3 linked regions of the Homo sapiens genome follow. The protein of the gene in region 1 interacts with the protein of each later gene in a biochemical or structural test. Each region holds a gene or a part of one and is shown in the gene's direction. Other genes may lie near its edges.

Region 1 (11,910 bases):
TTTTACTCTGTCACCTAGGCTAGGCTGGAGTGCAGTGGTACAATCATAGCTCACTGCAGCCTCCATGTCCTGGGCTCAAGTGATCCTTCCACCTTACCAAGACTACAGTGCCACCACGCCCAGTGAATTTTCCTTTTGATTTTTTGTAGAGATGAGGTCTTGCTATGTTGCTCAGGCTTGAGCTCAAGGGATCCTCCTGCCTTGGCCTCCCAAAGTGCTAGGATTATAGGCAAGAGTCTGCACCCAGCCTATAAAGTCTTGCTAATTTTATAATGTTACCATTTTTTCCCTCTCCTTATAAATATGTACTTTTTAAATTATCAAAAAATTGGAAGAGGACGGACAGGAAATAAAGAGATAATCCTGTTAACATTTTAGAGTATATCCCATTAGAATTTTTTCTTTGTATGCAAGTACATGTACATATATTTAGTGCAGCCCTATTAGTTTTACAAAGTGATGCCTGTGTTTCTTTTTTCCTTTATTTCTACTGCTAGTGTCTAAACTTTTTTTTTTTTCTTTTTTTGAGACAGAGTCTCGCTCTGTGGCCCAGGTTGGAGTGCAATGGCGTGATCTTGGCTCACTGCAACCCCCACCTCCTGGGTTCAAGCGATTCTCCTGCCTCAGCCTCCCAAGTAGCTGGGACCAAAGGCGTGTGCCACCACTCCTGGCTAATTTTTGTATTTTTAGTAGATATGGAGTTTTACCACGTTGTCCAGGCTGTTCTTGAACTCCTGACCTCAGGTGATCTGCCTGCCTTGGCCTCCCAAAGTGCTGGGATTACAGGCGTGAGCCACCACGCCCGGCCTACTCTAAACTTTTTAAAATTCTTTTTTCTATATTTTAAAATAATTTTTAAAAAACAGAGACAGGGTCTCATTGTGTTACGCAGGCTGATCTTGAACTTTGGGCTCAAGTGATTCTCCTGCTTTGGCCTCCCAAAGTGCTCTAAACTTTATGTCCTAATGCCTAAATTATTATTTAAGTTAACTTTTATTTTATTTTTTGAGACAGTATGGCTCTGTTGCCCAGGCTGGAGTACAGTGGCATGATCTTGGCTCACTTCAACCCCTGCCTTCTGGGTTCAGGCAATTCTCCCGAGTAGGTGGGACTACCCTACTACAAGACTCCTGAGTGGTGGTGTGTGCCACCACGCCCGGCTAATTTTTGTGTTTTTAGTAGAGACGGGGTTTCACCATGTTGGCCGGGCTGGTCTTGAATTCCTGACTTCAAGTGATCCGCTACCTCGGCCTCCCAAAGTGCTGGGATTACAGGCGTGAGCCACAACACCCAGCCTGAATTAACTTTTAATGTATCCCATCCTTTTCTCCTAGTTTTACCTACCATCAGATTACTCCTTCTAAATATTACTTTGTTTTAAAAATTTATTTTTATTAATTATCATGGGTACATAATAGTTATATACATTTATCATAAACATTTCTTAAACGATATTTTTCAAAATCTTTAGTGTCACTCTTGTTAAGAATCTTGGCTGGGTGAGGTGACTCACACCTGTAATCCTAGGACTTTGGGAGGCAGAGACAGAATTACTTGAGCCCAGGAGTTTGAGCAGCCTGGACAATGTAGGGAGACCCCATCTCTATTAAAAATAAAAATAAATTAACTGGGTGTGGTGGCGTGTGCCTGTGATCCCAGCTACTTCGAAGGCTGAGATGGGAATATCTCCTGAGCCCAGGAGGTTGAGTGGAACTGTGATTTTGACGCCACTGCACTGCAGCTGGGTGACAGAGTGAGATGCTGTCTCAAAAAAAAAAAAAAAAGAAAGAAAAAAAATCTAGTGTTCCACATCCGATTATCTAATGTATTTAACTACTCAGTTTAGTATTGAAAATGTGCTTTACGCCTAGATCACCATACCTTTGTTCATATCCATTTTTCTCTGATCCTGTTTTGTTTATCCTAAAGTCTGAGGAATATATATGTAGTATGCTTCATATTCATCTGAAACAAATGTGAAGGAAAAGAATCACTGTGTTTACTTAAAACAGTTTTTTCCGTATGTGTATGGAGATGGAGTCTCTCTCACTATGTTGCCCAGGCTGGTCTCGGACTCCTGGGCTCAAGTGATCCCCCGCCTCTGCTTCCCAAAGTGCTGAGATTATAGGCTTGAACCACTGTGTCTGGCCTAAAAAAATTTTGTTTTAAATTATTTTTGTCTCCTATGGTCTTGTCTGAAATCAATACTATGAGTTGAATTTGTGGAGAAAAACTTACTCTAGAAAAGTATAGCATAGGTGACATCAGGGTTACAAATAAGTATTAGAATATCAGTTCTAGTCAGTAAAATGAAATATATATTTAAATTCTGTAAAATTATTTATGTATTTCTTTGACTCCTGGTGAAATACAGCTCTTAGCATTACTATCTTTGAGTCACTGAAATGTTCTTAATATTCAAGAAAAGTTCTATTTCCTGAAGTTTCCAAGATCACCAGGCTACATTTATGTCATATTGCTTTAATCTTTTATAAAGTTTGTTATCTACTTTTATATTGACTTCAATTTTTCCCTCTTAATGCTTTCTATAAATAATGTCTTGCATATAATGCCATGCTTTGTATTTTTGAAAGGTTCGATATGTATAAGTAATTGAGATATAATTCACGTACAATGAAATTCGTTTGTTTAAATTATATAGTTCACTGGTTTTTAGTATATGCGCAAAATTGTGCAACCATCAGCACAGTCTAATTGCAGAACATTTACATCACCCCAGAAAACTCCTCACCTATTAGCAGTTATTCCTATACTCCTCTCCCCGCAGCTCCTGGCAACCACTAAACTTTTTCTCTATATGGATTTGCGTATTCTGGACATTTCAGTTTACTCCTTAAAAAATGTATTGAGTGATTTGATACAAACTTAATAAAGAATCTCACTTTAAATAGAAAACTGTCTGCTTACATCTAGTAGCTTCTCCCATAGACAGCTTTTAATGACAGTTTGTCAAAGAATTGGTATTTGGAAGTGGAGATGGATTAATGGGTAGGAGAGGGGAAGATGGTAGAAGCGGGGGGGCGGGAAAGGGTAAAGAGGTGACAAAGTTGAGGCAAGCAAATAACTTGATTTGAGACTTAGCTCCTCTTTAGATCTACCTTACTCTATGAATGAATAAATTGATAATAAATATGATTTATTTTCTCTCCATTCAGTCTGTGGCTCCAGCAGCCTTGTTTCTAGCAGCTAAAGTGGAGGAGCAGCCCAAAAAATTGGAACATGTCATCAAGGTAGCACATACTTGTCTCCATCCTCAGGAATCCCTTCCTGATACTAGAAGTGAGGTAGGAGATTAATTACACATCTGTTTTTCTTAATTTTTTTCCTTTCTTTTTTTTTCCCTACTCCCAAGCATGCCTGGATCTTTATGTATTTCAATGCAACTTAATTTTATAACTTCGATTTATTGAAGTTTAGATTGGTGTTGTTAAAAGAATATTTTAGTGTTTGTGTTTTTCTTAACAGTAAGAAAATCAGGCCAGGTATGGTGGCTCACCATACCTGTAATCCTAGCACTTTGGGAGGGTAAGGTGGGAGAATCACTTTAGGCCAGAAGTTTAAGACCAACCTGGACAACATAGCAAGACCCTGTCTCTATATTTAAAAAAAAGAAAAAAAAAAGCCAGATGTGGTGGCTCATGCCTGTAATCCCAGCACTTTGGGAGGCTGAGGCAGGAGAATTGCTTGAGTCCAGTTCGAGACAAGCTCTGGCAACAAAGTGAGACCCCATTTCTACAAAAAAAGAAAAACAACAACAACAACAACAACAAAAAACAACTGGGCATGCTGGCTCACATCTTTAGTCCCAGCTACTTGGGAGACTGAGGTGGGAGGGTTGCTTGAGCATGGGATGTTGAGGCTGCAGTGAGCCATGATCACACCACTGCAGGCAACAGTGCCAGGACTCTGTCTGAAAAACAAAACACATAAATTTTATGGCGAAAGTTTTGTATTTGTTGCAGTAAAATTTGAAAATACAGAAAAATTCAAGAATAAAATATCTCTCAGATATATTCTAGACCAATGGTCCCAGACCTTTTTTGGCACCTGGGACTGGTTTCATGGGAGACAGTTTTTACATGGACAGGGGGTGGGGTTGGAGATGGTTTTGGGATGATTCAAGCACATTACATTTATTGTTCACTTTATTTCTATTATTGTTACATTGTTATACATAATGAAATAATTACGTAACTCACCATAACGTAGAATCAGTGGGAGCCCTGAGCATCTCTTTTTTTTTGAGACGGAATCTTGCTCTTGTCGCCAGGCTGGAGTGCAGTGGCGCAATCTCGGCTCACTGCAACCTCCACCTGCCGGTTTCAAGCGATTCTCCTGCCTCAGCCTCCTAAGTAGCTGGGACTACAGGTGTGCACCACCACACACAGCTAATTTTTGTATTTTTAGCAGAGACAGGGTTTCACCATGTTAGCCAGAATGGTCTCGATCTCTTGACCTTGTGATCTGCCCGCCTTGGCCTCCCACAGTGGTGGGATTACAGGCATGAGCCACTGTGCCCGGCCACCTTGAGGTGCTTTTCCTGCAACTAGATGGTCCCATCTGGGGGTGATGGGAGACAGTGACAGATCATCAGGCATTAGATTCTCATAAAGAGCAGCAAATTAGATCCCTTGCATGGGCAGTTCACCACAGGGTTCAAGTGCTCCTATAAGAATCTAATGCCACTGCTGATCAGACAAGAGGCAGTGCTCAGGTGGCAATATGTATGGTGGGGAGAGGCTATAAATACAGATGAAGCTTCACTCACTCGTACCTGCTGCTCAACTCCTGCTGTGTGGCCTAGTTCATAACAGGCCATGGACCCCCTGTTATATAGACAACTGAAGCACAGGTATACTAATGAACCACTGTTATTTGTGGCTTCTTTTCTATAGATAGCTATGTGTGCATGTATTTTGTCTCTGGTTTGTTTTCATTTGCTTACTATATCCCAAATATTTTCCCATCTGATGGATTCTCTACTTTTTAAAAATGTCTGGCTAGTATTTAATGATATATATGTGAATGTATGTATTTTTAACAATTCTCCATGAAGAAGTCTAGATAATTTCTAGCTTTTAAAATCACTATAAATGTTATGAAAAATATTCTTTTTTTTTTTTTTGGAGACAGGGTCTCATTCTGTTGCCCTGGCTGGAGTCCAGTAGTGTGATCATGGCTCACCGCGGCCTTGACCTTCCGGGCTCAGTGATCCCCCTGACCTCAGCATCCCGAGTAGCTGGGACTATAGGTGTGCGCCACCATGCCCAGCTAGTTTTTGTAGAGATGGGGTTTCACCATGTTGCCCAGGCTGCTCTCGACCTCCTGAGCTCAAGTAATTCGCCCACCTTGGCCTCCCAAGTGCTGGGATTACAGGCGTGAGCCACTGCACCTGGCTGAAAAATATTATTATACATTTTTATTATGGATCCTTAAATGAGTAGTTTCACTATTTTTTTTTTTTTTAACTTTTTTTTCGAGTTGGAGTTTTGCTCTTGTTGCCCAGGATTGAGTGCAATGGTGCAATCTCAGCCAACCGCAACCTCCCCCTCCTGGGTTCAAGCGATTTGCCTGCCTCAGCCTCCCGAGTAGCTGGGATTACAGGCATGTGCCACTACACCCGGCTAATTTTGTATTTTTAGTTGAAACGGGGTTTCTCCATGTTGGTCAGGCTGGTCTCGAACTCCTGACCTGAGGTTATCCACCTGCCTCAGCCTCCCAAAGTGCTGGGATTATAGGCGTGAGCCACCATGTCCAGCCAGCTTTGTTTTTTTTGAGACAGAATCTCGTTTTGTTGCCCAGGATAGAGTGCAGTGGCAAGATTGTAGCCAGGATGGTCTCGATCTCTTGACCTTGTGATCCGCCCGCCTTGGCCTCCCAAAGTGCTGGGATTACAGGTGTGAGCCACTGCACCCGGCCACCCTGAGCTTCTTTTCCTGCAACTAGATGGTCCCATCTACGGGTGATGGGAGACAGTGACAGATCATCAGGCATTAGATTCTCATAAAGAGCAGGTGATCATTTCACCTCAGCCTCCCAAGTTGCTAGGACTATAGCTGCGTGCCACCACTCCCAGTTAATTTTTATTTTTTTGTAGAGATAGGGGTCTTACCATGTTACCCAGGCTGGTCTTGAACTCTTGGCCTTCAAAGAATCCTCCCATACTGGCCTCCCAAAGTGTTAGAATTCCAGGTGTGAGCAACCATGCCTAGCTACATTTTTTTTTTCTTTTTTTGAGATGGAGTCTCGCTCTGTCACCCAGGCCGGAGTGCCGTGGTGCGATCTCAGCTCACTGCAACCTCCACCTCCCAGGTTCAAGAAATTCTCTGCCTCAGCCTCCTGAATAGCTGGGATTACTACCTGCATTCACTCTATGGAACAAGCCAAGGTTCACGCCCACCATCACACCCAGCTAATTTTTTAGTATTTTTAATAGAGACAGGGTTTCACCATATTGGCCAGGCTGATCTTGAACTCCTGACCTCGTGATACACCTGCTTTGGCCTCCCTAAGTGCTGGGATTACTGGCGTGAGCCACCGCACCCGGCCCATTCTTTATTTTTTAACTGTCTAAAAAATCCAGTGTATTTTATGGTTATAGCACGTTTCAATTTAGCTACATTTCAAGTGATGAATGGCTACATGTGGCTAGTGGCTATAGCTTTGGCTGGCACAAATCTGAGTGAATTTTCTTATTACCTTTTCCTTTGAACTCTTCTGTTACTTTTTAGAAACCTAACATGGCCCCAAAGGGGAAGTTCTAATAGGAGCCAAATGTTTGGTATTAAATGCTTACAGTACTGTAGGAAGGTTCTGCAAATGTATTTTGGTGATGTTGAAAAATATATACTTTATGGCCAGGCGCGGTGGCTCATGCCTGTAATCCTAGCAATTTGGGAGGCTGAGGCGGGTGGATCACCTGAGGTCAGGGGTTCAAGACCAGCTTTGCCAATATGGTGAAACCCCGTCTCTACTAAATATACAAAAACTAGCCGGGCGTGGTGGTGGGCTCCTGTAATCCCACCTACTCGGGAGGCTGAGGCAGGAGAATCGCTTGAACCTGGGAGGCAGAGGTTGCAGTGAGGCGAGGTCGCGCCACTGCACTCCAGCCTGAGCAGCAGAGCGAGACTCCCTCTCAAAAAAAAAGGCCGGGTGCGGTGGCTCACGCCTGTAATCCCAGCACTTTGGGAGGCCGAGGTGGGCGGATCATCTGAGGTTGGGGGTTTGAGACCAGCCTGACCAACATGGAGAAACCTCGTCTCTACTAAAAATACAAAATTAGCTGGGTGTGGTGGTGCATGCCTGTAATCCCAGCTACTCGGGAGGCTGAGGCAGGAGAATTGTTTGAACCGGGAGGCAGAGGTTGTGGTGAGCCGAGATTGTGCCATTGCACTCCAGCCTGGGCAACAAGAGCGAAACTCCAACTCAAAAAAAAAAGAAAAAAGAAAAGCAAAAAATACATACTTTTAATTTTCTTTTCTCTAAATCACATGAACCATAAAACTTAAATATTAACCTGAAAATGAACCAAATATATGGTGCTTTTTCTGTAGCCATATATAAACTGTTACCTCTCAGCATACTACTTATTTATTTATTTTTTAAAGAAAATGTGTACTGAATGGGCATAAGGGATAAAGATTGTATTTCACAAAAAAATTAGCCGGGCGTGGTGTTGCGCGCCTGGAATCTTAGCTACTTGGGAGGCTGAGGCAGGGGAATTGCTTGAACCAGGGAGGTGGAGGTTGCAGTGAGTCGAGATCACACCACTGCACTCCAGCCTGGGTGACAGAGGGAGACTCTGTCTAAAAAAAAAAAAAAAAAAAAAAAAAAAGATTGTATTTCAGTTCTTAACTCTACCTCCTAACTCCACTCATGCCTTTTATTGTTTTGGTTTCCCTGGAAGGGATTGTTAGAATTGTTTATACTTTATATATTGTGCCTTTGTAGGGAATAATTTCTGTCTTCTCACTTTTAGGCTTATTTGCAACAAGTTCAAGATCTGGTCATTTTAGAAAGCATAATTTTGCAGACTTTAGGTAAGTTTATTTTCCTTTGAAACATTTTTTTAAATTATGCAATAAAATGATTTGATTCTAAAAATTTGCTATATAGGAAGAATATTTCTTGGGAAAGTTTTTGTAGTGTCCCTCTGTTTCCAGATGATAGAGGTTGTAGACCTGAGTTTAGCTTTGACCTGTTCCATAGAGTGAATGCAGGTAGTACAGCTGACCTTTGAAACAGCAGCCAGTGGGTTATTATTTTTTTCATTCTAGGGTTATTTGCTTTTTAAGTTTTGGTGATTTTTACCCCCAAAAATTATAAAAACTATCTAAAGAATGTTTTTCCTTCCGTGGATTGTTATGGCCTGTAACAGCATTTGTTTTTAAAATTGGTAACTAGTGTTTAGAACAGCAGAGTGAAAGTGGGGGAACTTAAGCTTTAGTGGTTGCATGGGCAACTCTGATGATATTGTGTTATTATCTGTTATTTTCATCACACAGGCTGCCTTTAGAAGTTTAGAAAATATGAAAATACAGATTTTTTTTTTCCTGGTTCTTTTGGGCTATCATTTTTCTCTTCTAGGTAGGGTAAGATTTCATGAGTTGTACGTCAAAGTTATTGGCGTAGACACAATTTTTTTTGTACATATATATATATGATGAGTTCTTCAAAGTTTATCTCTCAATTTATTCTAGTTAACTTTTTTCTTTTTCTTTTTTTTTTTTTTTTGAGACGGAGTCTTGCTTTGTCGCCCAGGCTGGAGTGCAGTGGCACAATCTTGGCTCATTGCAACCTCCGCCTCCTGGGTGCACGCCATTCTCCTGCCTCAGCCTCCAGAGTAGCTGGGACTACAGGCGCCCGCCACCACGCCCAGCTAAATTTTTGTATTTTTAGTAGAGATAGGGTTTCACCGTGTTAGCCAGGATGGTCTTGATCTCCTGACCTTGTGATCCGCTCGCCTCGGCCTCCCAAAGTGCTGGGATTACAGGCTTGATCCACCGCGCCCAGCCTCTAGTTAACTTTTTTCTTAAAATATCTTCAAATTATATTTCATGGGACAATGATGTTTTTCTGGTGGAATAAATTTCTATTAATATTTTAGTGTGGAAACCAGTAAGGTGTAATTTACAATCAGTTATCCTTTTACAATAATTTGTAAAATGTAAACTTCTTAATAGTTTTTTAATCCATTACTTTTTCTTTTAAGGCTTTGAACTAACAATTGATCACCCACATACTCATGTAGTAAAGTGCACTCAACTTGTTCGAGGTAAGGAATCCCAGCTTATGAAGACTATCTCAAGCTGTTTTCCCATTTAGAGGTTGTGGTTTGTGGTGGACAATACATAATAGTTCTGCTTTGGCTAAATTTAAAGGCCTACTTGGCTTAAATCAAAATGAGTTGTTCTGACTTGATGTTTTTCTGTTGGGTTCTTACAAGTAATATTTTTAGATGATCTCTAGTTAAAGAGAACTAACCTCTTGAGAATGTTTGTCAAAGTTGGGCAGTTTGTGAAGTTATTTAACAGAAATTTTATGAAAGTTGTGAGGAGTGGGTGATCTTATTTTAATTCTGGGGTTGATTAAAGGCCACCTAGAGGATCATACAGAATTTATTTGGACTTTCCATGATATACAATCCCTTGGCAGAACTTTTCTTTTTAATTCTAATTTAACAATATTAGGTATAATTGAATGAAACTCTCTTATTTAGTTTAGTATCAAGAATATCTGAACACTATTGTGCCTTTAAGTGCCTTTTATGATTTTTAGGCCAAACTGATAATTGGTCTTATTTTACATTTTACTAATATGTGTTTCCTGTGAAAATTCCCAAATTTTCCTGAGTTCTTTATATTTGAAAGTATTAAAATGTTATATTGCACAAGGATAAGACTAGAGATGGGTGTATGTTAATATTGAGAAGACTATGTCCTGAGGAAGATAAAAATTTGCTTTGTCACCCAGAACAGTTTGTTTTGGAAGAAGTTAAATTTTTTCATTGTAATATATTACATTATTTGATGATTTGGGGATTAATTAATTAAATCTTAATTAGGGCTACTTAATTAAAAACTTTTTTTTTTTTTTGAGACGGAGTTTTGCTCTTGTTGCCCAGGGTGGAGTGCAGTAGCACGATCTCAGCTCACCACAACCTCCGCCTCCCGGGTTCAAGCGATTCTCCTGCCTCAGTCTTCCGAGTAGCTGGGATTACAGGCATGCGCCACCACCCCAGCTAATTTTTTATTTTTAGTAGAGACGGGGTTTCTCCATGTTGGTCAGGCTGGTCTTGAACTCTGGACCTCAGGTGATCCGCCCACCTCGGCGTCCCAAAGTGCTGGGATTACAGGCGTGAGCCACCGTGCCCAGCCTTAATTAAAAACTTTCTTAACAGCAAAAGTCACTTTTCCCAAATATGTCAAAGTCTTCTAGATTCTGATCTTGCTTCTAGATCATCTTAGTTCATCCTGTAGTTTAGTGATTCTCAGTGAATCCTTACATCAGAATCTCTGGGTTACTTGTTAAAAAATGCTTGCACCCTTCTCCAAACATTTAATTAAATTTTAGGGAGCAGGTCCAAGAATTGCATTTAAACAAGTACCTCAGATATGTGGTGTGCAGAATAAAGCTTGAGTACCTAGATCTGGAAGCAGCATAGTTATTAATGTTAAAATTAAAAATCATTGATCTGTCTACTTTGGCAGAATGTAAACGTCAGGTTTACAGGGACCATGTGTGTCTCATTTGCCACTATATTCACAGTACCTTGCAAATATTAAATGCTTACTAAATATTTGTTGAGAATGAATGGAACTAATAACTTTTTTCCTCCCCCACCCCTGACTTTTTTTTTTTTTCTTTAGCAAGCAAGGACTTAGCACAGACTTCTTACTTCATGGCAACCAACAGGTTTATATTTTAATTTTTTTTTCTCTTCGATTTTTGGTATAGGACTTTACTTGAGTTTGATACAGTGTGCTATAGATAATTCTCTGGTGAATGTTGATTTTTCTGCACAGTTTTCATGTTGTACTTTAAATTTCCATGGTACTTTTTAATTTTCTAAGGTTATGTAATTATTTAGTACTGATTTTTTTGATAACCTACTCAGTTCTGCATGATAGTGACTGAAAATCTAATTTGGAGTATTCTGCAATAATTATATGTGTATATATATATATATATATATATTTTTTTTTTTTTTTTTAAATTATTATTATTATTTTTTGAGACAGAGTCTTGCTCTGTTGCCCAGGCTGGAGTGCAGTGGCACAATATCAGCTCACTGCAAGCTCCACCTTCCAGGTTTACACCATTCTCCTGCCTCAGCCTCCCGAGTAGCTAGGACTACAGGTACCCGCCACCACGCCCAGCTAATTTTTGTGTTTTTAGTAGAGATGGGGTTTTACCTTGTTAACCAGGATGGTCTCGATCTCCTGACCTCGTGATCTGCCCACCTCAGCCTCCCAAAGTGCTGGGATTACAGGCATATATATATATATATATATATATTTTTTTTTTTTTAAGACAGAGTCTCACTCTGTCTACCAGGCTGGACTGAAGTGGTGCGATCTTGGCTCACTGCAACCTCTGCCTCCCGGGTTCAAGTGATTCTCCGGCCTCAGCCTCTTCACTAAGCTGGGATTATAGACTGGCGCCACCATGCCCCGCTAATTTTTTTGTATTTTCAGTAGAGATGGGGTTTCGCTATGTTGACTAGGCTGGTCTCAAACTCCTGGCCTCAAGTGATCCGCCTGCCTTGGCTTCCCAAAGTGCTGGGATTACAGGTGTAAACCACTGTGCCTGGCCAATAATTATATTTTAAAATATTCCTTTTTCTTCCCCCTCTATCAATCAATGGGCACTTATGGATGTTAAGAGTTT
Region 2 (7,906 bases), on another chromosome or scaffold:
TGAAATTAGTTTTTAGAAGTATTTTGTTTAAAATAGATAATTTGGTTTATTCTTTCTGGATTCTTTAAAAATTATATGGCTATTTAAAAATTCAAGCTTTAAAAAACGTATTGCAATTTTTAAGAATAATTTCTTCAAAGCTCTATTTTTTTATATATGTTTGAAATTGAGTTAAACTCAAATTTAAGTGTGCTTTCTTACAATGCCTCTGAAACCCTAGATTAATTATATCCCTGGAATTCAGTCCTAGGCACCTCCATGTTCTCTAGCTATTCCTCCACATTACCTCCCCTATCCTCATCTCATCCTTTAAGGTAGAATGGCTTTCTTTTCTGGCTTTCTTAAAAGAGGTAACTCAGCTGGCTTTCTGTCATGGAAATCAAGCTTGATAGTGCATTTTTGTTGTTTAAATGTGTCATCAGAATCCGTCTGGCAGTGAGCACACTTTAAATCTAAAAATGATCACTTAAAAAAAAAAAGTTAACATAATGTCAGTAACTGCTGTCTCTGGCCACTCAGGAATACATCATGTTTGCATTTATGCTTTTTCCATTAGAAAATATTTAGTTCATTTTAAAGTATATTTAAGTTTAGTTTTAAAGAATATCTTGACTAAAATTAAGCTCCTTGACCCCTGTTTACTCTGTATTAGAGTATAATAATTAAAAGTATGACCTGAAGCTTTATCTTTAATTGTATTTTCTGGCTTTTTCATACATTTTGCTTGTCTAATCGTATATGAGCTTTTTAATAGAAAAGGACAGTGAAAATTTTTCTTATTCCTTACATCCTTCAATTATATTAAAATTGAATAATATTCAGTTATAGTCCGTCTCACAAAATTGCTATGAAAGTATATTTTACTCTTGAGTAAAGCAAATTGTACAGAAGTTAATTCTGTAAAATTACATTTTGAATAAGGAGTTGCATGAGTACCACATAAGTTCTTTGCAGTGTTTTCCCCTCACTACTTTTCACTGCTTCTTTGTAAATAACCAAATAATTCTATAGACCTACATATGTTCCAGAGTACATGTTATTGAGCTAAGACACTCAATATTGAGCCACTGAGTAGCTGTTCAGCACTTGAAATGTGGCTAGTCCAAATTGAGATGTGCTGTGTGAAGTACACATTGGATTTTTGGATTTTGAAGACTTGGCTTGAAAAAAGAATGTAAAATATCTCATCTTTTATTATTGATTTCATGTTGAAATGATTAGTTTTTTCAGTAGCCGCATTACAAAAGTAAAAAGAAACAGGTAAAATTAACTTTAGAAATGTATTTTATTTAATCTACTGTAGCCAAAAATTTAAGTTCTGTATGTGGCTCACATTATATTTCTATTGGATTACACTGCTGTGTACAGTATGTTTAAAGAGAATGGTGACATGAATTGTGTTATGAGTAATGAGAAAAAATCATTTTAAACTCACCATTATCTGGCCAGGTAATACTAACTTTTTATTTAAAGAATTTACAGTGTTGCCATTCATTGAAGATACAGGTTATATGATTTTTACTATAGATTTTATATATGTTTTGGAGGATCTGTGAAGTAATTAACATTTTGATTACTGAAGCCAGTTATGTAGGCTTTACAAAGGTAGATTTTATTTGAAGCAATTAAGGATATGATTTTAATCTGTTTTAAAGTTTCCAGAACGTCCACTAACTAAAATATAAAGGCTCTGTAATCTATAAAACTCTACAGAGCTATACATCTTCATGTCCTTCCTTTTTATTTTTCTTTTTTCTACTAGCAGTTATAGAAACCAGATTCATTGCAGTGTAAGAAAACAAGACAGAGCATTTTCTTTTGGTAACTTGATTCTGTAATTAGAACTATGCTTTCAGTAGTATTCATTAATTAAAAGTATATTATGAATAAGAAATCGGTTAAGAAAATCATACCTGTGGTGTAATATTTTAGGAATATTTAGAAACATTTAGAAAATCAGAAGCTGCCTTTTTTGGAAAAGTTTTGCATTCCAGTGTAAGATTCCTGAATATAATCAATTCATTGATACCTATAACTTCAAACCTGGTCAAAGCAAACCTACTTATGATAGAGAATATTTAACTGTAATTTGTGACTTGTGCTGTTTGACCCATCAATTCCTACCTGACCCAAAGGCAATCTGAAATGAGACAGCTGCATCACTCATCTGTACCATGTTCAAAATTTCCTGTCAAATTAATGGAAAAACAGGTTATAAATGCAACTAATACATAATATGTCCTCAGTATGTCTTCACTGTGTGAAAGATTTAAAATTTAGCAACAGTAAAGGAACTTGAAGTTTACAACTCTCAGGGGTAAGATTTTAAAAATACATGTTAATGTTATTTACTGGCTTAAGATACTTGGAAGATCTATTCCAATAAGTTGCATCACCATTTTTGTTTTCAGTTTCAGAATGGAGTTTTAAATGAAACATATCCAGCTGAATTAAATAACATAAATAACACTCAGACTACCACACATCTTCAGCCACTTCATCATCCGTCAGAAGCCAGACCTTTTCCTGATTTGACATCCAGTGGATTCCTGTAATTCCAAGCCCAATTTTGACCCTGGTTTTTGGATTAAATTAGTTTGTGAAGGATTATGGAAAAATAAAACTGTCACTGTTGGACGTCAGCAAGTTCACATGGAGGCATTGATGCATGCTATTCACAATTATTCCAAACCAAATTTTAATTTTTGCTTTTAGAAAAGGGAGTTTAAAAATGGTATCAAAATTACATATACTACAGTCAAGATAGAAAGGGTGCTGCCACGGAGTGGTGAGGTACCGTCTACATTTCACATTATTCTGGGCACCACAAAATATACAAAACTTTATCAGGGAAACTAAGATTCTTTTAAATTAGAAAATATTCTCTATTTGAATTATTTCTGTCACAGTAAAAATAAAATACTTTGAGTTTTGAGCTACTGGATTCTTATTAGTTCCCCAAATACAAAGTTAGAGAACTAAACTAGTTTTTCCTATCATGTTAACCTCTGCTTTTATCTCAGATGTTAAAATAAATGGTTTGGTGCTTTTTATAAAAAGATAATCTCAGTGCTTTCCTCCTTCACTGTTTCATCTAAGTGCCTCACATTTTTTTCTACCTATAACACTCTAGGATGTATATTTTATATAAAGTATTCTTTTTCTTTTTTAAATTAATATCTTTCTGCACACAAATATTATTTGTGTTTCCTAAATCCAACCATTTTCATTAATTCAGGCATATTTTAACTCCACTGCTTACCTACTTTCTTCAGGTAAAGGGCAAATAATGATCGAAAAAATAATTATTTATTACATAATTTAGTTGTTTCTAGACTATAAATGTTGCTATGTGCCTTATGTTGAAAAAATTTAAAAGTAAAATGTCTTTCCAAATTATTTCTTAATTATTATAAAAATATTAAGACAATAGCACTTAAATTCCTCAACAGTGTTTTCAGAAGAAATAAATATACCACTCTTTACCTTTATTGATATCTCCATGATGATAGTTGAATGTTGCAATGTGAAAAATCTGCTGTTAACTGCAACCTTGTTTATTAAATTGCAAGAAGCTTTATTTCTAGCTTTTTAATTAAGCAAAGCACCCATTTCAATGTGTATAAATTGTCTTTAAAAACTGTTTTAGACCTATAATCCTTGATAATATATTGTGTTGACTTTATAAATTTCGCTTCTTAGAACAGTGGAAACTATGTGTTTTTCTCATATTTGAGGAGTGTTAAGATTGCAGATAGCAAGGTTTGGTGCAAAGTATTGTAATGAGTGAATTGAATGGTGCATTGTATAGATATAATGAACAAAATTATTTGTAAGATATTTGCAGTTTTTCATTTTAAAAAGTCCATACCTTATATATGCACTTAATTTGTTGGGGCTTTACATACTTTATCAATGTGTCTTTCTAAGAAATCAAGTAATGAATCCAACTGCTTAAAGTTGGTATTAATAAAAAGACAACCACATAGTTCGTTTACCTTCAAACTTTAGGTTTTTTTAATGATATACTGATCTTCATTACCAATAGGCAAATTAATCACCCTACCAACTTTACTGTCCTAACATGGTTTAAAAGAAAAAATGACACCATCTTTTATTCTTTTTTTTTTTTTTTTTTGAGAGAGAGTCTTACTCTGCCGCCCAAACTGGAGTGCAGTGGCACAATCTTGGCTCACTGCAACCTCTACCTCCTGGGTTCAAGTGATTCTCTTGCCTCAGCCTCCCGAGTTGCTGGGATTACAGGCATGTGCCACCATGCCCAGCTAATTTTTGTATTTTTAGTAGAAACGGGTTTCACCATGTTGGCCAGACTGGTCTCAAACTCCTGACCTCAGGTGAGCCTCCCACCTTGGCCTCCCAAAGTGCTGGGATTACAGGCGTGAGCCACTGCATTCAGCTCTTCTTTTCTTTAGATATGAGAGCTGAAGAGCTTAGACACATTTTGCATGTATTATTTGAAAATCTGATGGAATCCCAAACTGAGATGTATTAAAATACAATTTTTGGCCGGGTGCAGTGGCTCACGCCTGTAATCCCAGCACTTGGGGAGGGCGAGGAGGGTGGATCACGAGGTCAAGAGATGGAGACCATCCTGACCAACATGGTGAAACCCTGTCTCTACTAAAAATACAGAAATTAGCTGGGCATGGTGGCGTGAGCCTGTAGTCCTAGCTACTCAGGAGGCTGAGGCAGGAGAATAGCCTGAACCTGGGAATCGGAGGTTGCAGAGCCAAGATCGCCCCACTGCACTCCAGCCTGGCAATAGACCGAGACTCCGTCTCCAAAAAAAAAAAAAATACAATTTTTATTTCTTTTACTTTTTTTAGTAAGTTAATGTATATAAAAATGGCTTCGGACAAAATATCTCTGAGTTCTGTGTATTTTCAGTCAAAACTTTAAACCTGTAGAATCAATTTAAGTGTTGGAAAAAATTTGTCTGAAACATTTCATAATTTGTTTCCAGCATGAGGTATCTAAGGATTTAGACCAGAGGTCTAGATTAATACTCTATTTTTACATTTAAACCTTTTATTATAAGTCTTACATAAACCATTTTTGTTACTCTCTTCCACATGTTACTGGATAAATTGTTTAGTGGAAAATAGGCTTTTTAATCATGAATATGATGACAATCAGTTATACAGTTATAAAATTAAAAGTTTGAAAAGCAATATTGTATATTTTTATCTATATAAAATAACTAAAATGTATCTAAGAATAATAAAATCACGTTAAACCAAATACACGTTTGTCTGTATTGTTAAGTGCCAAACAAAGGATACTTAGTGCACTGCTACATTGTGGGATTTATTTCTAGATGATGTGCACATCTAAGGATATGGATGTGTCTAATTTAGTCTTTTCCTGTACCAGGTTTTTCTTACAATACCTGAAGACTTACCAGTATTCTAGTGTATTATGAAGCTTTCAACATTACTATGCACAAACTAGTGTTTTTCGATGTTACTAAATTTTAGGTAAATGCTTTCATGGCTTTTTTCTTCAAAATGTTACTGCTTACATATATCATGCATAGATTTTTGCTTAAAGTATGATTTATAATATCCTCATTATCAAAGTTGTATACAATAATATATAATAAAATAACAAATATGAATAATATGTTTTAATGTAAATTCTTTCTGGTCCACGTAAAGGAAATTATTTATTCTGTAGTATTATAACTATGTTAGATGAGGGCAATCTACAATACTTAGGGATATGTTAAGTCAGTAATTCATAAACTTCTTATACAATTTTGCCCCCCAATGTCTGACCTTTATCTGGATATAAAAAACACTCTCAGTAGCTTCATAAATTAAAATGCTTCTGAAATGAACTTTTTTAAAGCCCTGTGTTATCAGTGTAGTAGTGTGTCTTAGATTAAAATCCAAAATCCTATTTTAATATTTTAAGAATATTTCTGAAGAAATTCGAAATAACCCTTGTTAGCTGTATTTTGTGCTTAGTTTAGAAAAACCATTGCCCAAACTTAGTATTTCTGTTTAATAAGTATAAATGATACAGAAGCCTTTGGCCTTAAATTCATAACTGTTGAACATTCATGGAAAACCCTGCAATTAGAATTGATTGAAGAAGAATTCCTGAGAAAATGTTTTCATTCTTGTGACAGTTATTTTTCTATTAGTTTTATATTTGTTCTTTACAATTAGGCATTTTTCTCAACTAGCATATCATAAGTTAGCATCATACTTAATTCTGAACATTTTAGACTAATCCTGAGTCTTTAAGAATTACATAAAATATTTAGTTTTAACTATTTGATCTGAAAAAAATCAAGTAAAAATCCTGATAACCTGAGTGCATCTCTGCTTGCGCTTAGGTGATTTCTGTCACCATGAATGACTCTAGCTTGTCCAATTTCACCAGCTCTACCAAACACCGACCCAGGGATGTTGGCCACTGACAGGGCTGGATGACATCTCTCATTTCTTTCACTGTCTGCAGATGACCTTGCTTCCGTTTTTACTAATAAAATCAAGGATATCATCCTAAGTTTGTACCTTCACCTCAGCAATTCCTCTATCCTTGGACTTACCTCCAGTATGTGAGGAGGAGAGTTTCCTGAACTCCAGGGTTAGCCCCCGTCCTCTCTCGTTCTCATGCACACAGCTTCGACACCTGCTTTCTGAGAGGCTCTCCTTCTCTGTAGGATTTCCTGTGAATAGGTCCTCCTCCATCCTGGAAAAAAATTACTTGAACCTGCACTTTCTTCTCTATTAAATTACTTCTTTACCTTCTTCCTTTGTAACAACAGTTTTGATCTCCTGAGATCTGGTTTTGTTTTCCATCCTTCCATTATATTGCAGTGTTGCGGTTCACTAAACTTCTTACCATAGGCTCATTTTCTATGGCCCTGCAACCAAACTGATTACACTTTCAATGAACTTTTTTCTTCCCTTCCATGACATTAGTTGTCCTGTAAGCTCCTATTATCCCTTTTCTTTCCTTTGTTAACCACTCTTTCCTCCTCCCACCTGGCAGCAGGCTTAGTTTTGACCATTTGTGGCTCTTTCTGTACATACTGTCTAAGAAGAAGTGATTCAATGCCTTACCTCTGATTGACATTTGTGAAGCAATTCTTTCCCTGAGAGAGCAGCATAGCATAGCCAAACTAAACACACAGACTCTGGAGTCAGACTACTAGGTATAAATCCTGGCTTTGCCACAAATAAGATGTCATTGAGAAGGTTTCTTACTTTCTCTTAGCCTAAGATGCCTTTTCTGTAAACTAAGGCTAACAGTACCTGCCTCACTGGATTGCTGGAGGATTCAGTGATTTATATAAAATCACTTAGCTGCCAGTAGCCAAAACTGGAATAATTTGAGCAACTAAATAAGTGATGATAGCATTAGATTACAGCACAAAGAATAAAGTAAATATCCATGAATCCATACTAATATAAATAAAATGGTTGAAAAATAAATGGGGGAGAAGGAGCACATCTTTCCTATAGAAGAATCCCAAATAATATTGGTAGCTACTATGCCCTCTGATGCATGAGCTTAGTTCTCCTCCCCTGGAAGGATGAGTTAGACTTAATGACTTGCTTTCAAGGAATAGAGTACAGACAGAGAAGAAAATAACTTTACATTGTTGAAATCTGGCAAGCACTACTTTAACCAAGTAATCAAGGTTAACATCACCAGTGAAAAGTCATGTTGATATAACATGTATTATCTGATATGATACTTTGAGAAGTGTACATCTCAAAGCTCCCTGATTTTCTTAAAAACACATAGTCTAATTATGACAAAACATCAAACGCAAATTCAGGGACATTCCACAAAATTTCTGAGAGGATTTTTTAAAGTGTCACTGTCACAGAAAGAGACTGAATAATTATCACAGAGCAGAGGAGGC
Region 3 (12,307 bases), on another chromosome or scaffold:
TTATACCCTCAACAGAGAGGGTTCTGCTTACCTGCTTATGAAAACCAATTCGATACCATGTTAGCCTTTAAGGAGTAAACTAAAGGATTCACTTTAATAACTCCAGTATCAACAAAGAAAAAGCTGTCCTTGCTTAAACCAAAAATTCAAGATTGCTACTATATAGTATGTTTCAGTGCACATATCAAGTCTACAAGTCTCACACTTCTGACCCTTGTCTTCAAGTCCCTAAACTGGAATAAAACTAGATAAATGCCTGAGGAACCACTTCACACCCTAAACACGTGCAAACTTTGTTCAACAGAACATTTTACTGCCAAAATGGAGTTGGCAGAAGTTTGGAGCAAAGGCCCCCAGGCTGCATGATTTGTTGGCACCAGACAGCTTAAAAATCTTAACATAATACTGCAGAGTTTGAGTACTACCAATTTGCTTGAGACTCCTCCTCCAAGTTTGACTTGAGATAGATGGAAGACGCCATAAAGAAAGACTATTAACACTTCATCCTCTATCCAGAAATGCTTTTATTTCTCACTCCTGATTGTCATACCTCTATATTCCTTGGTGGTTGTATTTACACGGTAAATCAAATGGAGTCTATTTTGAAATGCATATAAATTCAATTGTATTGTGTTGCTTGGATAAAGGGACACAGGGAGAACTACTATAAATACATAAAATTAATTATGACAAAGTTCTACTTAGAAAACACTTGATCCAAATAACCCCCATATATCACAATTTTTTACCCTAAAAATGTGGGAGAAATTAAGATACAGAATTACCTGTAAATTGCTACCATTTTACATTTGGTTCAGCTTGTCTTCTCACTTCTGTAAGTCTGAATGACGGTAGTTTATCTTGTATGTGAACAATTTAGGAAAGCCAGGAAAGAAGCCAAGTAGAGTTCTCTTCAACAAGGGTCAACAATAAAGTCTTGGAAATCTTCATAAGCTTGATGCTGTTAATTAGGAAAAACTGCATCGGAATTTTTAAATTACAGTTGAGTACAAGCAACTATATAACTAGCAACTTCGAACCTGTAAATGCTTGATAAATATGCAGTACTGAGAAAGGATGGTTTGCTTTGGAAGGTTATCTTGTCCTATGTTTCAATAAAAGACAAGGTTTAAAGAGATGCTACTTGCTCCTCATACACCTAAAAAACTTTTTTCTTGAAACTTTCTAATGTTTTCCCTCCGTAGCTCCATGTATTTTATTAATGTGTCTGATAGCCTTTGTTTTTCCTCCTCTAGAACCTCCAAGTTTTCTAATTCTCAGCTATGATTTTAGATCATTAAATCACCAGTTTCTAATCTCCACAATACAGTTGGAAACATTTAGGACAGAATATCCTTTAGGATATTAAGATGCAGAAGACTGTACTTCGAAGGATATTTATATAGTAGTGCTGCCACCTAAAGATGAGGTGAATATAAAGAAGCAATTCAAAGGAAATGACCCATCACCCTTAAGCCAGTCTCATTTTCTCACCTCCAGCTAGGAATTAATAAGCGTGTTGCTGTTGTTGTTGTCATTAACAGGGAAGTTGAACTGTTTCGCAATCACTTATTTCTGAGCTTTAATCCTCTGTGCCAGATAATTTCAGACTCAAACCTTTTCTAGTCCTCTGCGATTCTTCTCAGCCATCAGGCACTGCCTACAATACGTAAGAGGCAGCAAAAGATACTTGGAAAAAAACAATTGAGAGATTTCTGGTTTAGTGAATAAAGCAGGCAATAATAGACCTTAGAGTTTTCCCTTTATCAGTGATAGACTCCTCACAATGCTGAACAACTGACTTACATTTTGATAACTAAATTTTCATCTGTAAAATGGGAGTAATTATACCTTAGTCCTACTTGCCTCGCAGGCTCAACTAGATATGCTTCTGGGAAAGATTCTCTAACAAGTGAGTTTAAAAGTCTACCACTGCCTAACAAAGAGGGATTTTGTGGTATATTTGCAAAGTAACTTCAAAACAAAATAGTTAAATAGGTTGAGGCAATGATTAAGTTTTCCTAAATCACAGTTTGACTTCTCGGAGGTCTATTTAAATAATGATAAAGATGATAAATGCAGTTTTTATTTTGCTGCAGTTATTAGCTGATCCACGTTCCATCTACGTATTCAGTGTTGCAGGATGGAGACGTGACAGCGTAGAAAGCGAGCAAAAGCGTTACCGTGCACCAAAAATCTTGTCAAACTTGATACGATTTCAAGAAGACTGTCTTAAAGGACATTTTATAATTTCACATTTAGCCCTTGCATAGCATTTTATGAAAATTAACTTTTACCCTTTCCCCCTCGGCCCAAGGAAGTCGCATTCCCTCAAAGGGGCCCGGCTTCAACATATTACACTGCGTGGGAGGCTGGGCAGCAACCCCACGCTTCCTGTCAAGGATTCCTGGGGCCAGAGCCTGAAAAGTGCTCTAGCCACTCTTCTCTATGCTAATTCTGTCCTTCCGACCCCTCTTGGCGGGTGTCTGAGGGCCAAGGTGAGACTTTCCCCGGAGATGAAAGGCCTATTGCCTCTTCAGAGACCCGGGCGGAGTTGGGGCGGGGGTGCCGCGTGATAGGGTGGTAGCAGAAGTCGCAACGACGCACAGGGCCCTAAGTTGGAGCTGGCGCAGGCCCTTCAGGGTTCTATCCCCGCCAGAGCCTGGCTTCGGCCTTCAGAAGCCAAACGAGTAATAGGTCCTTCTGGGGCGCTGTGGGCGGTGGGTGGAGGAAGTGTGGGCGGAGAGGCCACAGACATCCCCCTCCTCAGACGCGCCCCAAGGCCTGGCCCGCGGAATGTTGACGCGCCAGGAGCCGATAGGGCGCGCTCACGCGCGAGAAGGGGGCGGAAAGAGCGCGCTCGGCGGCCGCCGCGGCGGCAGCTAAAACGGAGGGACGCGAGAGCGAAGGGCGCGAGCCACGGAGTTGGGAGGAGGGGTGGGGAACGCGGAGCGCGCGCTGACGTCGCCTGGAGTCACGCACGGAGCGCCGGGTTACGCGCCGACGTCTGGCTGCCACGACTTGCCGTCTGCGGCGGCGGCGGCGGCGGCGAGCGGATCCCGCAGGGGAAGGAGGAGGAGGAGGGAGAGCCAAGGGGGCTGTGAGTGAGCGGGAGAAGCAGGGTGTGAGCCGGACTTGCCCATGGGAGGGAGAGCGAGCGAGAGCCGAGCCAGCCATCCGAGCCGCCTCCTCCTCCTCCCCTCGGCGTCCCGCCCCCGCCCGCCAGCCCGCCCTCCTTCCTCCTCAGCCCGCAGAGCCTAAGTGAGGCGCAGCTCGGCTAGCGCCGCTGTCCAGGACAGGTGTGCGCGCGCGCGCCCTCCTCCCCTCCCCCCTTCCTCGCGCCTGTCTCGCGCGCGCCCTCCCTCCCGCCAGCCTGCGCCCTCCCTCACCTGCGGCAGGACAGCGCCCGCCCGCCCGGGTAAGCCCCTCGCGACCTTCCCTGCTGCCACTGCCACAGCTCCAGGTGACGCTCGCCCCGTCCCCTTTACTTGCTCTCTCAGCCCAGGAATAATTATAGTACCATTGCAGACATCCCCGCACCCTCCCTCTTGGAGACCCAGGCGGTGCAGCAACGTTCTCTCCCACCCCCCGCAGCGAGAAACGAATGAACCCCCTCCTACTTTCAAAAGAGAACAAAATAACACGCCCCTTAAGAAAAGAGGCGATCCTACCTCCGCAGGCGCTGGAGACCACCAGTGATGCGTTTGCTTAGCAATCCCTGAGCCCCATTTCCCCTGGCCGCCTTCGCCCTGGGGCCTGGGACTGTGCGCTAGACGTGGCTGACACTCCCTGCACGGCAACCCTGGAAGGAGGGAGAGGAAGGAGAGTTCTATAACCCAGGCTTCACTGCCAACCCCTCCTCTGTTCGGTTCCCCCCACCCCACTACCACCAAATGCATACACCCGCCCAGGATGCGTTGTAAAAACAAAACAAAACCAGGAAAAAAAAAAAAAAAACCTTTGGTGCTGACATCGCAGATGAAGCCGGGCCCAAAGATGGGTGGCCCGAACAAGGCATTTTTACTGCCCCACAGCGCTGGGTCAGCTCCACAGCTCCTCTGCCTTTGTCCGAGGGCAAAAGGAACGGATGTGAAGCTGAGGGGTCTTCTCTGTGAGCGGCGGTGGGCCCCGGAGGCGGGCTGTGATGTTTGTAGGGGAAGGCACCCAACCAATATATCTGCCATAAACCTGAACTTGGGTTGGAGAGCCCCCAGAGACTGGCTGGGGTAACTGGTTCGTAGCTGTCTACCCCGGAATAAATGCCACCTTCTTTTCCGCGGTGTCTGCGGGACCCTCTGTTGGGGGTTCTAATTCGTTTTGGCCTGGGCTCCTTACATTTCTGTCCGGCCAGGCGCTTTTGGACAGCTTTTCGCAGCGGTGTCTAAGCTTGTGTTCGGTGTCCTTGGAAGGGAGGTCCCAGAGCTTTACAATAGGCTGGATTTGGTTTGACATCTTTTGGTGGACTGTCAAAGGGGAAAGGAAATTTTTGGATTACTTCAAGATCCCCCACCGCCCCCGCCCAACTGACGTTTGCGAATTGCGGCTTTGGAAATTGGAGTGTTGACTAGAGTGTGGAGAGAGAGTTGCTGATTTCATTGCTTTGAGTACTAGTAAAACCATTTAAGTATCAGCCGGAAGGGAGACAGCTATTGACATTTACATCGGTTCTGTTTGGACCTTTGGGGTACATAAAATGTCGGGTTCTCTGAATTTTTTATCGAATTTAGAATGTCTGCTACATTTATTTAACTTCTGCAAATGCTTAAAATGAAAACATTTTGGAAATGCGAGGATTTTTATCAAGTGGATTGTTCTCTTCATATATTAAATGTTTACTTCATATCTTTAATCCGAAACATTAAAATAGCATTGAAGAGGCATGATTTTCAAGATTAAGTGAGCTATGGAAAAGGAATACGCTTTTAAAGAACGATCTGGGAAATGCTGTTACTATTAGTCATTGTTGTTGTTAAATGTTAAGATTTATTTGAGAGTTTCTCAATTTTTTTGGTAGACAGTCATGAGAAGAAATGGCTAATTCCTCCACTTTGAACATTTACAGTACAACATCCCAGTTAGTTTTAATGATTTGGGTATTGAAGATAGTTGTCTGGTTTAAGACTGGTATTTAATCTAAGTATCACTTGAAAACACAAGCTCTAATGTTCTTTATTTTGGAAATTTGTGATTTTGTAAAATATTAATCAACATATTGTTTCTATTAGGAACTCTATAATCAGAAGGGTTTACTACCCAGAGGTAGACAACCTCTTTCCAAGTCTATTTTATAAATGTGTGTTGATTTTTACTTTATAAAACCAAAACTGAATTAGATTATTTCAGAATCACCTGTAGTCAGGCTGAAGAAAATTAAAGCTTTTTTCTTTTTTGTTCTGCCTAATGTGTATTTCTTTGCGCACAATTTTTTGTTGGTAAGAGTTTGTTAAATACATAGAGACAGTGGGATTAAAAATAAAGCAGTCTCTATTCTCTTTAAAATGTGTCTGTTGTATTAATAATAAAAGGGCTCAAGAAATCTAGAGACATTATGTCTTTGTAAGCATATTGTGAGGAGAAAGGAAATGTTTACTTTTTGATGTTTTTCATTAACATGGATTTTTGCTGCATATTAATTTGCTGTATATTTCGTTTTCCCTTTGTCTTTCCTACATTCTAATGAAATTATACATTTAGTTTTACAACTATTTGTTTTACATTAACAAATTCAAACAGCTGGATACTAGAACAGACTTCATTCACCAAGTTAGTATATTGTTTAGATTATTAACAAATGGTTAGAAGTCTTAAAATCCACTTATTTTCTAATGACTTTTCAGTGTTACAATGCAAATATAACTGTGAAGTTTTATTTAAAGTTTAAACTTTTTGTTTTAAGACTTCTGGAAGTTTATATTCATTTCTCCCAGATTGCCTTTTAAGGCTACTGTACACTATAGCCCAAAGAAAGCTGCCTTTCACCTCCTTAGTCTGAGAAAAAGCCCACACTTAAAGGCTTATTCTGAAATTAACTCTCGTTTCAGTAGTGAAAATATGCTAAAAATCCTATTTATCATTGAATTATTTTGGAAAGGCATTGTTAATCTTGTTTGCTTTTTAGATACACATATAAAGTAGAGAAGCTGGCAAATAAGGGCAAAAGTTTTATACATATATAATGAATAGCATAAAACAAGTACATATTTATGTGGAGAGATCTAGGTCCCAGTAATTTGCTGATTTGACCTTAAAATTCCCAGTTTAAGTGTACAAATGAGATTCAACTTGTGTTCTGTCTGGAAACTTCATCAGTTGCCTCTGCGCTGGGTAACTAAGAAGTCAGTTCTTGGTGGCAGTCACTTTTTCAGAAAAACAGGGCACTTCCAAACTCAAATCATTCGGAATCCCTGTATATAGACGTCTAGGACGGAGGGCAAGAAAATTTAGACTGCAAGTCGGGATAGGAAGGCGGGAAGTTGGGATACGAAGGCGGGAAGTTGGGATAGGAAGGCGGGGCAGTTTCGAGTCTTAGTCTTCTGTCCTGGGGGCAGCAATCAGCACGGAAGAAAGGCAGGGACTGGCAGGGGGGGTGGGTGGGGCCCTCATCGTATTCTCATTGGCCTTGTTGCTGCCTTGAGTTTTCATTAGGGAGCAGGGGCTTGGTTTGACGCAAGGTAAACTCTTGAGGAAGAGCAGCAGCCCTTCTAGATCGGATTGTACCAGATCTTAGCCTCAGTTTACAAGTGAAACATAATGTCCCACTCCATTCTCTGTGGAGAGCCTGCTACTGAGCCTTTTTGTCCCTGGAGGCGCTGGGGTCTATCCAGAGTCCTGATTGCTACTGTTCGAGCCTGGAGGAGTTACTGCTTCTTCACACGTGTATTTCTGTGCAGTTCAAAGTGCTTCAAAAGTTCCTGTGTCCCCTTCTCAATAGACTTTGGGACAGGGGAAGGAGTGCAGAAAAAATCAACACGGAAAGAGTACTACAGGGTACTAGAGGTTGCCTCCCAAATAAGGGGAAGTTCTTTATGGGGCCCAAAGTCTGGGTTTTTATCTCTTGGTGTGGAGCCTTCCCTTCAGAGAGCCATTTCAGGGACCACTGGACATAGGTGGGTGGTTCTGAGACGGGTGCACAGGACAGCGCCTGTTTGCTCCTTGGTGGCCAGGTGCTTCTTGTTTCTTTTCAGTAGGAAGTCGCAAACTTCAGCCCAGGGCTGAAGTAGCTAATGCTGAGTAGAATGGGGCTCTTTCTAAGAGAAAAAGGAAGCTGTGAATACCTAGCAGGCAAGTTTGTTCAGGAGGTGAAGAGATATGGTAAGGGGGGCTTTGAGGGTTCAGGAATCAGCAAGGCTTATTCCCTAGCCTGCTCTTGGTTTCTTGATCGTTAGTCCACTCTTTTCTAGGAAGCTGGGCAATCATATTCCCAGTTGTCCCTCGGGCTAAGAGTGAGGGAGGCAAGTCTCCTTACTTTTGGGGGAAGCGGGAGATGCTCAATGGGAATAGAACCCACAAATGGAATAGGTATACTTTTCTCAGGATAGAGGCAACGATCTGTGCTTGAGAAAGCCAGGGGCAGAGCTGTGTGATCTGTGTCTCTCAGCTGCCTGTAGAAGGTGATGGGGGAGAGAGTGGGCGCATTGGCAGGGGGGGGTCCCCTGGAGATAGGCCTTAGCTTTCCCCAGAGTGCCAGGGCTGCAGACTGCAGTGAGAGAGTACAAGCACTCAATACCTATCTGGAAATAAGCCCTAGGTTATACGTCAGGTCTAGTAAAAGAGAAATCAGGTATCTCTGAGCTCCTCTACTCCTGAGCCCCTAATACCAGAGAAGATCCTTTTTAGCTATCACCGTCCAAAGACTCACTGGTTAATTAATGGTCAGCAACTTAGCTGTCTGCATAAAAACCAGCGACCACTTAATATGTTACTTTTGGGAGTGGGATCTCTCCTTGACACAAGTTTCTGGGAAGAGTAAAAGGGGCAAGCGAACCTGCTTTAATGAATCCCGTAAGGAACTGCGTTTCCCAGGAAATTCCTGACATTTTTAGCTCATGAATTTCCGAAAGCCTGCTTGGTTTTCTCCTCCATTCTGGGTCCTTCCAGAAAGGAAGAAGAGTGGGCTAGGGTCTGAATGCTCACAGGGCCTGGTTCATCCGCAGAGCTGGCCAGCAACTCAGGCTGGGCTCAGCCCTGAGCAGGGTGCCCCCCTTCCCCAAATCTCAGAAGGAGGAGGGGGAGGCGGGCGGGCAGGCAGTCAGTCGTGGTCCCAAGGGGGACTGGCTGCAGGTTTTTGGGTGAGTGTGGAGTTTCTTTTTGATTGTTGCATGTGGGGAAGGGCAGAGTCGACGGGAACAGTCACTGCGGGCACCCTAGCCCTGGTGCGTCTACTGTCCTCTGCTCGGCTCCCCCCATCGGTGAGTGCGCCCGCCCGCCCGACTGTGCGGGGCTGCGGTTGGGGGGAGGGGGGAGCGGGATCATCTGAGGCCAGAGCCACTGCCGTGTGTGCGGGGAGGGGGAGCGGCGGGAGAGAGAGGGGAGGGACAGGCTAGGTGTCTGCTGCTCCACGCCACTGCTGCCGGCGCCCCGACCTCATCCCCAGCAGCCCCCTCTGCAGCTAAGGGTTACCACCGCACCACCTCTCTTCTTTGCCTGCCTCAGCGGCCAAGGCTCTGCGGTAGGAGACAACCCAGCCGGGTGGCGGGTGGGCCTGTCTAGGTTTGGGTTTGGGTCTTGCTGAGGCCCGCATGAGAGGGGGTGGCCGTGACTCGGTGTCCCCTCTTTGCAGGGGGCTCTGCTGCGCCGCGCAGGCCCCTCCTCCTACATCCTCTTTGGGGGGTCACTGGAAAGCAGAGCTTAGGCCCACTCTCTGTGCTTAGTATGGCAGACTCCTTCTCACCCCTAGTCCCCTAACTCCCCAGGCCGAGGCCGCCTAGGGTCTGCCCAACAGCGACAGCCACGGTGGTGGTGGTGGTGGTGGTGGTGGTAGCAGTGGTGGCGGCAGCAGCGGCAGCAGCAGCTGCGACGCTGCGCGTCCTGCTCCCTCTCCCCCACCCAGCCAGGGTTGTAGGGTGAGGGCCGGTGGGTGGGCGCCGCCTGGCGGGCGGGCGGACGGGGGGCTGGCAGCGGGGAGGGGGCGCAGGTCACGTGCCGGCGGGCGGGTGGGCGCGTACAGTAGGGCGCCCTGCTACTGTACTGGGGAGTCAGTGCCCTGTTACCGGGTCTCGTCTGTCTCGTCTCTCCCGCAGATCTCGCGAGAGTGGCTGACTGGCTGTGGGGGTTGCGGCGGCAGCAGGCGGAGCCGGGGAGGGAAAGCAGCGGCGGCTGAGGCGACTGAGGCGGCGGGCGGAGCGGCAGGCGGCGGCGGCGCGGCAGCGGAGCGCAGCATCATGGCGGACCGAGACAGCGGCAGCGAGCAGGGTGGTGCGGCGCTGGGTTCGGGCGGCTCCCTGGGGCACCCCGGCTCGGGCTCAGGCTCCGGCGGGGGCGGTGGTGGCGGCGGGGGCGGCGGCGGCAGTGGCGGCGGCGGCGGCGGGGCCCCAGGGGGGCTGCAGCACGAGACGCAGGAGCTGGCCTCCAAGCGGGTGGACATCCAGAACAAGCGCTTCTACCTGGACGTGAAGCAGAACGCCAAGGGCCGCTTCCTGAAGATCGCCGAGGTGGGCGCGGGCGGCAACAAGAGCCGCCTTACTCTCTCCATGTCAGTGGCCGTGGAGTTCCGCGACTACCTGGGCGACTTCATCGAGCACTACGCGCAGCTGGGCCCCAGCCAGCCGCCGGACCTGGCCCAGGCGCAGGACGAGCCGCGCCGGGCGCTCAAAAGCGAGTTCCTGGTGCGCGAGAACCGCAAGTACTACATGGATCTCAAGGAGAACCAGCGCGGCCGCTTCCTGCGCATCCGCCAGACGGTCAACCGGGGGCCTGGCCTGGGCTCCACGCAGGGCCAGACCATTGCGCTGCCCGCGCAGGGGCTCATCGAGTTCCGTGACGCTCTGGCCAAGCTCATCGACGACTACGGAGTGGAGGAGGAGCCGGCCGAGCTGCCCGAGGGCACCTCCTTGACTGTGGACAACAAGCGCTTCTTCTTCGATGTGGGCTCCAACAAGTACGGCGTGTTTATGCGAGTGAGCGAGGTGAAGCCCACCTATCGCAACTCCATCACCGTGCCCTACAAGGTGTGGGCCAAGTTCGGACACACCTTCTGCAAGTACTCGGAGGAGATGAAGAAGATTCAAGAGAAGCAGAGGGAGAAGCGGGCTGCCTGTGAGCAGCTTCACCAGCAGCAACAGCAGCAGCAGGAGGAGACCGCCGCTGCCACCCTGCTACTGCAGGGTGAGGAAGAAGGGGAAGAAGATTGATCAAACTGAATGAAACCCCCACACACACACACATGCATACACACACACACACAGCCACACACACAGAAAATATACTGTAAAGAAAGAGAGAAAATAAAAAGTTAAAAAGTTAAAAAAAAAAAAAAACCTGTTAACTCCAAGGGAGCACCACCCACAGAACCTCCACCAACTGACAGTTTCTCTTCTTGACTTGCCACCCATCGCTGGATGTTGTCCACTTTATCCACCATATAAAACAGTAAGCAGCTGCTAAAAACAAAAAAAATACAAAAAGTAATAACATTATATGAACTGTGTTTCCTACTTGATTAAAAAATATAAAGAACTGAGTGTTTATTTCCCTAATTAACCAAGAACTTTTGTACACGTTTAAGCTATTATTATTAAAAAGTGTTTGCAAAATGGTCAAGATTATAATATTGCTGAATTATATAAAAGTCCTTTTCATGTTGAGCTAACATTTGACTTTAGCACAAAAAAGAGATATTTTAGAACACGTAAAATAATATTTTTAGTTTTTCTCATTTTGTTACCAAATTTCAAACCTTACATGGAGGTTATTATAGTATATTTGACACCCTATATACCTGTGATTAGAGATGTGTATATATATGAGGGCTAGGCATGCTGTGTGTCTGAGCTTTGTCTAAATGTTATGCAGAAGTTTGTAGAGTTAAAGGTACGTAGGTTTAATTCATGCAAGGTAAACAATAAGTGCTCTCTTTTATACAATATGCATTGCATCTGGACCTTAAACTTATAAAAATGGTCAGTGAAACTTCTGTGAACATGAAGAAATTATTAAAAAAGGCATTTAAATGAAATTTGCTAAGTTGTGATTTTTATGGTTGGAACCAAAGTTATTCAAATAGTAAAAGGAAAAAGAAAGAAAAAGGAGATCTCCCATAATATTTTTCTGCATCTGTTTGCTTTGACTGAGTAGGCGTTTTGTCATTATTGTGTATATGAGATGTACTTGTATCGTTCATAATATATTTTTTTTATTATGTGTAGAAAGATTTTAAAAAACTAACGTGCAGCAATTTCCAGTGAACCTGTACTTGGACATCAGGTAGTGAGTCTATTTGTGGTCACTAGCACTGTCTCCTAAACTTGTAAGAGGTCTGAAGCTATTCTTTGATTTTTGCTAGTGCTATTAACTTATGTAGACCTGTTAAAAAGCAGAGCAACACAATTATAGTTATCCTACTGAGCCATGGATTCTGAGTTTTGTTTTAAAAGTGAAAGCCAAGTTGGTGTATGTAAAGGATTTCCATGTAGCTGTGGTGCTAGTTATTACTGGCTACATTATATGCTAAGTGTATTTGTGTTCCCCAAGTGTACAAGCCTTCTATCAAAAGTATGTTCTATAACTCATATATTCAAGGTGTAGGGTATGAAAATGCAAAGTTTAGGAGAGCACTTTACCAAGCTGGTGTCCTCCAAACTGAAATTGTTTGTAACGATAGTCTTTTACAGGTTTTCCTTTAAAGATGTTTGTGTGCTTTTAATTGACAACTAACTTCTTGCTGCTGTATAGTAAAATATTAATATATTTTTATCATTAAACTGCTGCATGACTATCATCTTTGAGTGAAGAGAAAATGTTATAAAAAAGATGCCTTAAACAGTACATTTTGGTTTGGAATTCTGTAGAAAGTATTTTGGTAAAAAAAAAAAAAAAAAAAAAGGGTCTTGTCTGACAGAGAGTTCTGGGGATGGAATTGTTTCTTGGCAAATCCAGCCATATAGATCTAACTGCTGTATGTATAAGACACCACCTGTAGGAGCGGGAAGGTATCAGTGCTTCTTATATTGTAAAGCATTGGCCTAGGAAGGCAAACAGTTGTCTTTTTGAAGGATTTTTTTCTGCTGGTCCTTTGGGTTTTGATTTGATATTTTTATGCTCCCTGGTTGAGTGTGTTGTCTTCGTTTTTGAGATCTACTGTATGTGTTGA

The links.
Region 2: the proteins of CCNT1 (region 1) and AHR form a complex in vitro, tested with the Homo sapiens proteins (one study listed by BioGRID).
Region 3: the proteins of CCNT1 (region 1) and PURA form a complex in vitro, tested with the Homo sapiens proteins (one study listed by BioGRID).

Annotation. Positions count from the first base shown.
Region 1 is NC_000012.12:48,697,163-48,709,072, reverse strand, and holds part of CCNT1 (cyclin-T1), read left to right. Parts: intron 1-3,176; coding exon 3,177-3,305; intron 3,306-7,999; coding exon 8,000-8,060; intron 8,061-9,232; coding exon 9,233-9,295; intron 9,296-10,889; coding exon 10,890-10,935; intron 10,936-11,910. UniProt on the Homo sapiens protein: Regulatory subunit of the cyclin-dependent kinase pair (CDK9/cyclin-T1) complex, also called positive transcription elongation factor B (P-TEFb), which facilitates the transition from abortive to productive elongation by phosphorylating the CTD (C-terminal domain) of the large subunit of RNA polymerase II (RNA Pol II).
Region 2 is NC_000007.14:17,340,510-17,348,415, forward strand, and holds the end of AHR (aryl hydrocarbon receptor), read left to right. Parts: intron 1-2,411; coding exon 2,412-2,555; 3' UTR 2,556-5,638; downstream 5,639-7,906. UniProt on the Homo sapiens protein: Ligand-activated transcription factor that enables cells to adapt to changing conditions by sensing compounds from the environment, diet, microbiome and cellular metabolism, and which plays important roles in development, immunity and cancer.
Region 3 is NC_000005.10:140,104,802-140,117,108, forward strand, and holds the start of PURA (transcriptional activator protein Pur-alpha), read left to right. Parts: upstream 1-9,307; 5' UTR 9,308-9,380; coding exon 9,381-10,349; 3' UTR 10,350-12,307. Other genes in the region: uncharacterized protein LOC124900193, read right to left, coding at 3,258-4,184. UniProt on the Homo sapiens protein: This is a probable transcription activator that specifically binds the purine-rich single strand of the PUR element located upstream of the MYC gene. May play a role in the initiation of DNA replication and in recombination.